Regions from separate parts of the Homo sapiens genome. Here region 1 is linked to region 2. The links come from fine-mapping of genetic effects on gene expression. A gene starts in region 2. The other region holds a variant in brackets. All regions are shown on one strand. Distances are between the middles of the regions. Region 1 holds the start of PCDHA1 (protocadherin alpha 1). Region 2 holds the start of IK (IK cytokine).

What was found. PIP is the estimated chance that this variant, and not a neighbour inherited with it, causes the effect.
Region 1: its variant is fine-mapped to the expression of IK in whole blood (INTERVAL, PIP above 0.99).

What each region holds. Positions count from the first base shown.
Region 1 is chr5:140,784,663-140,790,040 of GRCh38, reverse strand. It overlaps PCDHA1 (protocadherin alpha 1), which reads right to left and starts at 3,901. Exons shown (of 4, transcript NM_018900.4): 1 at 1,357-3,901. The coding sequence starts at 3,750. It also overlaps PCDHA@. The variant T/G (reference allele first, on the strand shown) is at 2,406.
Region 2 is chr5:140,645,636-140,651,013 of GRCh38, reverse strand. IK (IK cytokine) reads right to left here and starts at 3,185. Exons shown (of 20, transcript NM_006083.4): 1 at 3,090-3,185; 2 at 2,477-2,543. The coding sequence starts at 3,105. NDUFA2 (NADH:ubiquinone oxidoreductase subunit A2) reads left to right here and starts at 3,384. Exons shown (of 3, transcript NM_002488.5): 1 at 3,384-3,531; 2 at 3,652-3,758; 3 at 5,336-5,378. The coding sequence starts at 3,431. MIR3655 (microRNA 3655) reads right to left here and starts at 3,170; the gene lies at 3,088-3,170. It also overlaps a transcript of TMCO6 not described here. RefSeq lists enhancers at 3,111-3,646, 3,387-3,806.

The sequences.
Region 1 (5,378 bases), 140 kb before region 2:
TGGGATTTTCACTCAGCCTAGGCTTGATTTTTGAAATAATGACTCCCACCTTTCTCTTGATCTTTTACTTTGACCTTAAGCAGATTTTTTAATAATTTGCTTTCACAAATTTCTTCCACTGTAAGCCACCTTAAACATTTTAGGAAAGGTAAAGAACTGTATTAACAGCAAGCAAGTTTTTGGATATCCTCGGGAAATTTGAAGAAAACTTAGTAATAATACTGAACTTAGGTTTTGCGAGCCTCAGCACCTTTATCCACAAAATGTGACGAAAGTCTTCACTTCATAAAATCGTTGGAAGGATCGAATGAGCTAAAAAAGTAAAGGGTTTTAGAACATTTGTGAGTGAATGGGAGGAATGGGAGGTGCTTAATAAGTGTTTCCTAACTGGATCCCCGAAATAGCAAATACATGCAATGCTAAGCCTTCTAGACCCAGGGGAATTCAAGGTTAATGGCATCAGGAAATTGTTCACAATGACAATGAAGTCGTGGTTGTATGTTTTCATAAAGAAATTAAACAAATCGCCCAATAAATGGTGTTTTTTGTTTGTTTGGTTGGTCGGTTTTGGTTTGTTTTTGTTTTTGTTTTGACAGAGTCTCACTCTGTCGCCCAGGTTAGAGTGCAATGGTGCGACTTCGGTTCACTACAACCTCTGCCTCCCGGGTTCAAGCGATTCTCCTGCCTCAGCCTCCCCATTAGCTGGGATTACAGGCGCCCACCACCAGGCCTGGCCAATGTTTTTGTATTTTTAGTTGAGACGGGGTTTCACCATGTTGTCCAGGCTAGTCTCAAACTCCTGATCTCAGGTGATACGCCCTCCTCGGCCTCCCAAAGTTTTGGGATTACAGGCATAAGCCACCGCCCCCAGCCAATAAATGTATTTTAAATTACGTTTGCTTAAAACTTCAGTTTATTGTTCACTTTGAAACTTAGCCACGTAAAGGGAAGGCAGATGATTTCTGTAACTTTGTCAAGAATTGTTTGTCCGGGGCTTGACATTTCACCAGAAAAGATAACATAATAAGTTACCCCGAATATGTCACTGTTATTTTACTACATTGAGATATTGTGTTAAATATGACCAACATTACCTTTTATTGTACCTTGTATTGTAGCTTTTTTAACCTGCCATTTAAATCAAGAAATACGACAATTTGTCCCTACATTTTTCTTTGCTTTCTAGTTCCATTCAAGACAAAACTGCCATTAATAGGATATCTACATTCAATGGTATGATTTATTTCAACGTTAGTGAACACCTTGAAGACATTTTTTAAAGTGATATTTGAAAAGATGATTAGACAAGTTAAATATGAAAAATATTTAAAGCCAAAACTCGAAAGTTGGACTTACATTACCAGAAAGATCCAAATTTGCTTCTGGTTGTTCATTTCTTTCTGACGTGTTAAGACTTGGAGATAGGCCTGGGCTGAAGGCCATGAGGTCGGTCTTGGGTGGGCCCTCGCTAGAGCACACCCTCTGCCGCCTCTGCTGTGAGTTCGACCAGCTCCCCAACGCGCTGGAGCACACCAGAGTGGGCTTGCCCGGCACATACGCACCCTCAGTGGGCGGCACTGAGCACCGCAGCGCCGTGTACAGCAGCAGTGTGAGCACCAGCAGGCTGGACACCGCGCAGATGGCGATGATCAGGTACACGTTGACATCCACCAGCGCCGCCTCTGGGCCCGCGACACCCACCGACGCCCGCGAAGACGCCTTTGGCGCCTGGCCGCTCTCCACCAGAGATACAAGCACAGTGGCCGTGGCTGTCAGCGCCGGCTCACCGTGATCCTTCACTAGCACCAGAAGGCGGTAGCGCGACAAGTCAGCCTCGTCCAGGACACGAGTCGTGCTGATCTCGCCCGTGTACAGCCCCACGCGGAACGGGATGCGCGCGCCGCCTGCTGCCGGCTGCAGTTCATAGGACAGCCACGCGTTGTAGCCCGAGTCGGCGTCCACTGCGCGCACCTTCGCCACCACATGACCCGCACCCACCAATCGCGGCACCAGCTCACTGACTGCACCAATAGTGCCACCCACTCGAGGCGCCAGCAGCGCCGGCGCGTTGTCGTTCTCGTCCAGCACGAACACCTGCAGCGTCACGTTGCTGCCCAGAGGCGGCACGCCCGCATCCCGCGCGCTCACCTGGAACTGCAGCAGCTCCAGCTCCTCGTGGTCCAGGGGCTGCAGTGCGTACACCTTGCCGCTCTCCGCGTGCACTGACACGTAGTTCGACAGCGCGCGCTCGCCCACCCGCCGTTCCACCAGCGAATAGGACACCAGCGCGTTCTCCTGCGCGTCCGCGTCCCGCGCAGACACCGTGAAGATGTGGCAGCCCGGCGGGTTGTTCTCCTTCACGAATACTGTGTACTCGGGCTGCGCGAACGCAGGCGCGTTGTCAT[T/G]CACGTCGGCCACCTCCACGGACACCCTGGCCGTGGCCCACAGCGAAGGCGAGCCCCCGTCCCGCGCGGTCACCACCAGCTCATAGACCGACAGGCTCTCGCGATCCAGGGCGCTGTCCAACACCAACGAGTAGTAATTCTTGAAGGTGGACACCAGCTTGAAGGGGACGTGGGGCATTAAGGAGCAAGTCACCTGCCCGTTGGCACCTGAGTCACGGTCAGACACGGTGATGAGGGCGATGACGGTGCTGAGTGGAGCGTCCTCTCTGATAGGCAAATACAATGAAGTGACCGCCAGTTCTGGAGCATTATCATTTACATCCAGCACTTTCACCAAAACCTTACAGTGATTTGACATCGGAGGACTTCCTTTATCAACTGCCTTTACTTGAATTTCGTAGGATTTTGTTTCTTCATAATCCAGTTTATCAATTAACCTAATTTCTCCTGAGCTGGAATCAACTTTGAATTTTTCTTGAATGTCACGAGAAATACCACTGTCAAAGGAAAAGACGACTTCACCATTTACACCTTCGTCAGCATCAGAGGCATTTAATGTGGTCACTAATGTTCCATTTGCTGTAGTCTCTAACAAGTGGACTCTGTATACGGCCTGGTCAAACAGTGGGGCGTTATCATTAACGTCGAGGACGGTGATCAGCAGCTCAACTGTACCTTGCAGCTCCGGTTTGCCCCCATCAGTGGCAGTCAGTAATAAGTGAAGTTCTGGTGTTTCTTCTCTATCCAAATATTTTCTCAATTCAAGCCAAAGAGATTTACTCAGTTCATCACTTGCCTCTACATCCAAAGAGAAATAATCACTCGGGCTGAGCGTGTACGTTAGAAGAGCGTTAGCACCAATGTCTGCATCAGCAGCTCCTTCTATCGGAAAACGCGAATTCAGGAGTCTAGATTCAGGAATAAATATTATTTGTTCTCTGCCCCTGAAGACGGGTGGATTATCGTTAATGTCTTTCACCTTCACCTCCACATGGAAAACCTGCAGCGGCCTGTCGGCGATCAACTCCAGGTGGATGCTGCACTCCGCGCTCCACTGGCACAGCTCCTCGCGATCGATCCGAGAATTCACAAACAAAATGCCATTCTGCAGATTTACCTCCAGAAGGTCCCTGTGTGTTTTGGACGCCACCCGGAACAGGCGAGGCACCAGCTCCGCCAGCTCCAGTCCCAGGTCCTGAGCAACGCGGCCAACGAAGGTGCCGTGTTTGGCTTCCTCCGGGATCGAGTAGTGGAGCTGGCCGCTCCCCACCTCCCAGGCTGCGAGGAGCAGAAGCCAAAGAAGCAGATCCCGGGCTCCCAGGCCCCCTCTCCTAGAAAACACCATTGCAAAAGGACTACACCTTTCTTATGCTCTCCTCTTACTTCAAAATCATGCCATTTTATCTAATATTTCCAATCATTTATCTCTTTACCGTTTCTGTCTTCTCTCAGGCGGTGACAAAATGGAGCTTCCTCCTTCACTTTTAGTGATCAGTAGCTCCCTTCTATTGACAAGACTTTGTGGTGTACAGCGACATCATGTGGCCAATGTAAATTTTAGATCCATTCGTTGATTTTCAAAATGCAATCTATATCCGTCTGCAATTTGTTAAATGCAATCATTTTCAATTTTATGTCCTTTTAAGACCCAGAACATTTCAAATCTCATTGGAGAGTGTGTAATCCAGTATTTTCTTTTAGTAATGATTACAAACATATTACAATTGAATTAGAAACTTTAAGATCTACTTAACCTCTCCTTACATCATTTTATTTAAAACGATTTATCAGCTTATATATTTTTATTATTAAATATTTGCAACTGAATGTCAAAGTTTTAAAATAAGGTAGTTTGACTGATATGATTCACCTTATTCTAGGATAGCTTGGGTGTTTTTTTTTAAATGATATTATACACACACACGTACATATGCACATGTATATATAGTTATCAGGTACTTACAGATGACATTTTTGGAAAATTTCTGAACACATGTAAAATTCCTTTAATGTGGTATGAACAACTTCATCATTTTCTGATACTTTAACTGTTAGAATAAAGATATTTGTGACATTTTCCCTTGTTGTTATATAACATAATGACCTAAGTATTGAACTTATAACTCTGACTTCCAAAACTCAGTATTCCTAATTGAATCGGTGTCCACTAGATCTTTTATTCCTATGTTAAATTTTCATCCATGCTTTTTTCTTATCAAGACCAAACATTGTCATATTACAACAAAAATCATATGGATATTGAATCGCAATATCAGAGACACGTACTGAGAATCTTTATATAATCCATAGTCAAAAGAAAAATGTAAATCTTATGCAAAGATATATTTAAAAAATAATTTGAGAATAACCTACCTATTAATAAACCTCTCTTTCAATTTCAGTCCAATTCATAATCAGAATCCCATAGCTACATCTTAGTTTGACTAAGAAATGTGATCAGAATAAGCTATCACTAGTTTTTTTTTAAAGGAATGGCCATAATGTTTATATTTTAAGTACTAAGAATAGTTAAGGACATTAATGTGAATAAGGATTATTTAATCCAGTATGTCTTCATAATCAGAAAGCCTAAATCCTTGTTTACTTGATAATTAAGATATAGACAAAACATGGAGCTATTTTATTTTTAACAAGCAGTTTATATATTTTAACAGTTCAATGTAGTAATTACTTTATTACAAAAGATAGAGCAACATAAGATACATGAATATTCTCTTAGTCTAAAAGTGAAGCAAACTTTAAACTTGGAAACATTCTAAAGGTTAGCAGATTTAGAGAACATTGTCAACATTTGGAAGTGCAAAATACTTTAAAGTGTTATAAATTTTGAAGACTGACACAGTGGTGAAATCTCTGGGTTTTTGCCTTATCTATTCCAGACTTGGACCAGAAGAAGCCAACAACCAGAAACATTATTGGGTACTGATGCAAAAAGCTCAAAAAAAAAAGCAT
Region 2 (5,378 bases):
TGTTAAAATTTAAGTATATATATCCTATGAGCCAGCAACTCCATTTATTTATATTTAGCCTGGTCCATTACTGACATATGTATATAAGAAGGCCTGTAAATTTAATTCAGTTATAGCCTTGAAAATAATCAGTCTGGCCGGGTGCAGTGGCTCACACCTATAATCGCCGCACTTTGGGAGGCTGACGCAGGCGGATCACCCGAGGTCAGGAGTTCAAGACCAGCATGGCCAACATGGTGATATCCCATCTCTACTAAAAATACAAAAAAATTAGCTGGGCGTTGTGGTGGGCGCCTGTAATCCTAGCTACTCAGGAGGCTGAGGCAGGAAAATCGCTTGAACCTGGGAGGCGGAGTTTGCAGTGAGCCGAGATCTAGGTATTACACTCCAGCCTGGGCAAAAAGAGCAAGACTCTGTCTCAAAAAAATAAAAAAAAGAAAAGAATCAGTCTGAAACAGACTAAGCGTTTATTAGCTGGAGACTGACTAAACTATGATGGTGTTTCCCAAAGAGGGAAAGACAGCACTAATGGTACAAGAGATTATTTTAATTGGTACACTAACAAAGACTCCTCTCTTGATCAAATTAAAGTCAGACTCCTTTAAAGCTCTCTTCTGACTAGGGCTCTTCCTTGGCCTGCTGACCTCAGTTTTAAAAAGGAATCCTAAGTCAGTTCACAGAAAGTTTTCCCACTCTTGATATCCAATCCAACTTGATATCTAATCAAGTTCCTCTTCTCCCCAAGGAAGACTTTATTGAAGACTACTGTAACAAGAGTCAAGACCATTGTAATAGAGTAGAGAGACTGAACTTAATTCCGAATACAACAGGGACAAGTGAGAATTTATAGAAAATTACTAAAAGCAACTTGGTTAGGTATGGGGGTGGAGCGGTGGTTGATTTCTTTGTTAAAACTGTGCTCAGCAGGCCACGGATGAGTCCTGCTGAAAAATGGGACTCTTTGGGGAACCTGACTAAAGTTTAGCCAAGGAGGGAATGCTTGTCACTGCTCTGAAAGATAATCTCAGAAACACTGAGCAGGGTTTAAAAAGAAGCAAGTTGCAAAAATGATATATACAGCATAATATCATTTAACTCAAATATTTTAAATCACAAAGCAATGTTGTGTTTTCCTCAGATATGCATGTATGTGTATAAATGCATTTAAAAAAGAGTAGGAGGGCCAGGCGCAGTGGCTCACGCCTGTAATCCCAGCACTTTGGGCCGCCGAGACGGGCAGATCATTTGAGGTCAGGAGTTCAAGACCAGCCTGGCCAACATAGCGAAACCCTGTCTCTACTAATACAAAAATTAGCCAAGCATGGTGGGGCATGCCTGTAATCCCAGCTACTGGGGAAACTGAGGCAGAAGAATTGCTTGAGCCCAGGAGGCAAAGGTTGCTGTGAGCAGAAATAATGCCATTGAACTCCAGCCTGGGCAACGGGAGGAAAAGATATGCCAAAAAAGGTAACTGTGGTTACTTCTAAGAAAAGGACTGAGGCTGGGCACGGTGGCTCACGCCTGTAATGCCAGCACTTTAGGAGGCTGAGGCGGGTGGATCACTTCAGGCCAGGAGTTCAAGACCAGCCTGACGAACACAGTGAAACCCTGTCTCTACTAAAAATACAAAAAAAAAAATCAGTCGTGCATGGTGGCACATGCCTGTAGTCCCAGCTACTTGGGAGGCTGAGGCAGGAGAACCGCTTGAACTCAGGAGGCAGAGGTTGCAGTGAGCCAAGATTGCATCACTGCACTCCAGCCTGGGTAACAGTGAGACTCCGTCTCAAAAAAAAAAAAAAAGAAAGAAAAGAAAAGAAAAGAAAAAAAAAAAGAAATGGACTGGAATTGGGGATGTTATCAAAGATGATTTTATCGGGGGCCAGGCACGGTGGCTCACGCCTGTACTCCCACCACTTTGGGAGGCAGAGGCGGGTGGATCACCTGAAGTCGGGATTTCAAGACCAGCCTGATCAACATGGAGAAACCCCATCTCTACTAAAAATACAAAATTAGCCGGGCGTAGTGGAACATGCCTGTAATCCCAGCTACTCGGAAGGCTGAGGCAGGAGAATTGCTTGAACCCGGGAGGCGGAGGTTGTGGTGAGCCGAGATCGCACCACTGCATTCCAGCCTGAGCAACAAGAGCGAAACTCAGTCTCAAAAAAAATAAAAAGATGATTTTACCCTTATTTCCTATGTTTTAATTTGCTATTGGAAGAAGTAATTCCTATATAATGTGTAATTACACAACACGTATAAAAAAAAAAAAAAACTTAACACCTTTCCTGCAGGAATTTCCCTTCTAATACCCTTATGCACTTGGCCTGATCCAGTTAAGGCTCACAGAGATAAAGGGCCAGCGGGTATAATTTTTTACCATCCTTGATGACAAGACATTCAGAATTCTTTCACCATCACCACCACTTTTCTATTCATTGCCCAACTCATTTCCATGGTCCTAGCACAAAATACTCACTGGTGGAAGGAGTGAGGATCATCCACATCGTGGCCATCGGGGGCCAAAGGGTTGGAGAACGGCTCACCTGACAAAAAAAATTGACGTTAATTTAATCAGTCTCTTACGTGTCAGATCCTATGCAAAAATTTGAGATATAGTAGTGAACAATACAGAACAAAAGTTAGAACAGCGACAGTGTCAACACAATGTAATAAGTGCTGAAATAGGAAACTACAAGAAGCTGTGGGAGCACAAAGCAGAGGACCCTAATCCTGCGCTGGAGGATCAGAGAAGACTTCCGGAAGATCACGTCTAAAATACTACGTAAAAGATAAATACGCGCAACCCAGGATTAAGTATGGGGACAGGACTGGGGGAAAGCGATCCACGCACAAAAGCCGCCCATCATCACTTGGAGTAGGAGTGAGGACTGGGGACGGAGTTTGGAGCTGTCGGCCTCACTTAGGACCCTGTGGCTTCTCCGGGCTCAAGCGTCACACATACATACATACACACACACACACACACACACACACACACACACACACCCGGCTTAAGCTCAGAAGCTACAATAATGCGCCAAGTGCCCCAAGTGCCATGGGGAAGAAATAACGGATGGCCTGAGCCTTACTATCTCGCTCCGGCATTTTGTTATCGTTCTTTCGCTGTCACCAACAATCGAGTCTCCAACAGCAACACCGCAGCGACAAGCTCTTTCCCACAGTGCACCTCAGAATCAACCCACACTGCTTTGCGTTCGCAGCCTTTCCGCTTCCTGTTTTTCCCTCCGACCAACCCCGAGCGCAAAGAAATTGACCTCGCAGCGGTCCTACAATACTTTTATATCATTGGCCAAGCTTTACCCCGCCCCTGCCTCATGCAGCCTATGGGCTAGGCTTTAGGGTCCGCGGTTGGTCAGACCGGAGCACTTGGCCTGAAGACCTGGAATTGGCGACTTCGATATTAACAAGGATGGCGGCGGCCGCAGCAAGTCGAGGAGTCGGGGCAAAGCTGGGCCTGCGTGAGATTCGCATCCACTTATGTCAGCGCTCGCCCGGCAGCCAGGGCGTCAGGTGAGGCGCGGCGTGGTGAGGCGGGCGGGCTTCGGGACGCCAGGGTCACGACCTCGACCTCCCTGAAGTTGAGGGAAGCCCCCGCCCACAGCACGCGCGGCGCTCTCTCCGGCCCCGCAGGGACTTCATTGAGAAACGCTACGTGGAGCTGAAGAAGGCGAATCCCGACCTACCCATCCTAATCCGCGAATGCTCCGATGTGCAGCCCAAGCTCTGGGCCCGCTACGGTGAGTGCGGGACGCCAGGGGTCTGGGGCTCCGGTAGGGGAACAAGGGTTTGAGAAGAGAAGGGACCGCCCAAGGTCGTGCAGAAACCCGTGGAGAAACTAGAACTCGGACTTTAGCCTTGCTGTTGATCTTGTTTCCATGAAGAAATTTATATTCGCAGGGTTATATGATGCGTTGTATTCCGGGCAACATAAGTATGCAGGCTGACCGAATCCTGCGTAGGGACCAGGAGCTGACGTTTTTGTAGTTAAGAATGGGCTTCAGACAGGAGAGAAGTTAGTCAATATAGTTTCTCCAAATAACGTGTAGCCAGTGTCAGTCCAGGTAGTGTGTGAGAATCTCAGTAATTTTGCACATAGAGCTGGGCCCTGTGCTGAGTGCTTCCCTGCCTAACTCATTTAATCTTCATTAGTTAGGAGGAAGCGTGTTCTTCTTTTCTCACTGTAGAGATTAGAAAACGGAATCAAAACTTTGTTTTGCACTATTGTTAAACTCTAGCTGCAACTTTAGATGCAGCTAGAGTTTAACAGGATTGAGCCTTTACATTTATTCCCCTTCCTAGAATGCACTTACCCCTCTAAGACTGGCATGGCAATGTATTGCAAAATGAAATTTTCCTATCATGTTGCCTAACACATTGTAGGTATGCAATAAATGTTTATACATACTGAATAACAGGATTTTAATCACAGCTTTTAACTATATGGTGCCCTGGGAATGACGGGAGGAGGTGGAGGAGAGTGACCACCTTAAGCAGATTGGTTCTCAGAGTAGATATCTGTGAGACACAGTAGACATTAGACATGCACTAATAATTGGAGAAGGAAAAAAGCTTCTCCTTCCAAAAGCCAGTAGACTACAGGAGGAGATAGACACGAGTAACTTTAGTGTATTGTGCTGGGTATTATGTTAGATAGCCTATGGGAGCCTAGAGAATGGGTACCCAGCTGGGTGCGGTGGTTCACGCCTGTAATCCCAGCACTTTGGGAGGCTGAAGCAGGTGGATCACCTGAGGTCAGGAGTTCAAGACCAGCCTGGCCAACATGGTAAAACCCCGTCTCTACTAAACATACAAAAATTAGCCGGGTGTGGTGGCGGGCACCTGTAATCCCAGCTACTCAGGAGGCTGAGGCAGGAGAATTGCTTGAACCCAGGAGGTGGAGGTTGCAGTGAGTGGAGATCGTGCCACCACACTCCAGCCTGGGTGACAGAGCGAGACTCCGTCTCAAAAAAAAAAAAAAAAAAAGAGAGAGAATGGGCTCCCAGCTGAGGCTGGACCCATGCAATACATTGCTCACCGTAGTTAATAATAAATGCCTACAGTGCCCCCGAAAGCTTCCCTGAAACAACCCATTGCGGCCATCCAGAATCAGCCAAAATTCTATTTGGACTTGGGCTTCCTAGATGTGTTTGAGACCTATTGTATTAATTCTAGGCATACCAAATGTATTTTGATCATATCTCTTTAATACTCTTCCTGTCTTAACAAGACTAAGATAAAGACAAAGATCTTTTATTTTACTTTGGTAGCCTCCAGGGTGCAGAATAGTTAAAGACACCTCCCTCTCTCTCTTCAGCATTTGGCCAAGAGACGAATGTCCCTTTGAACAACTTCAGTGC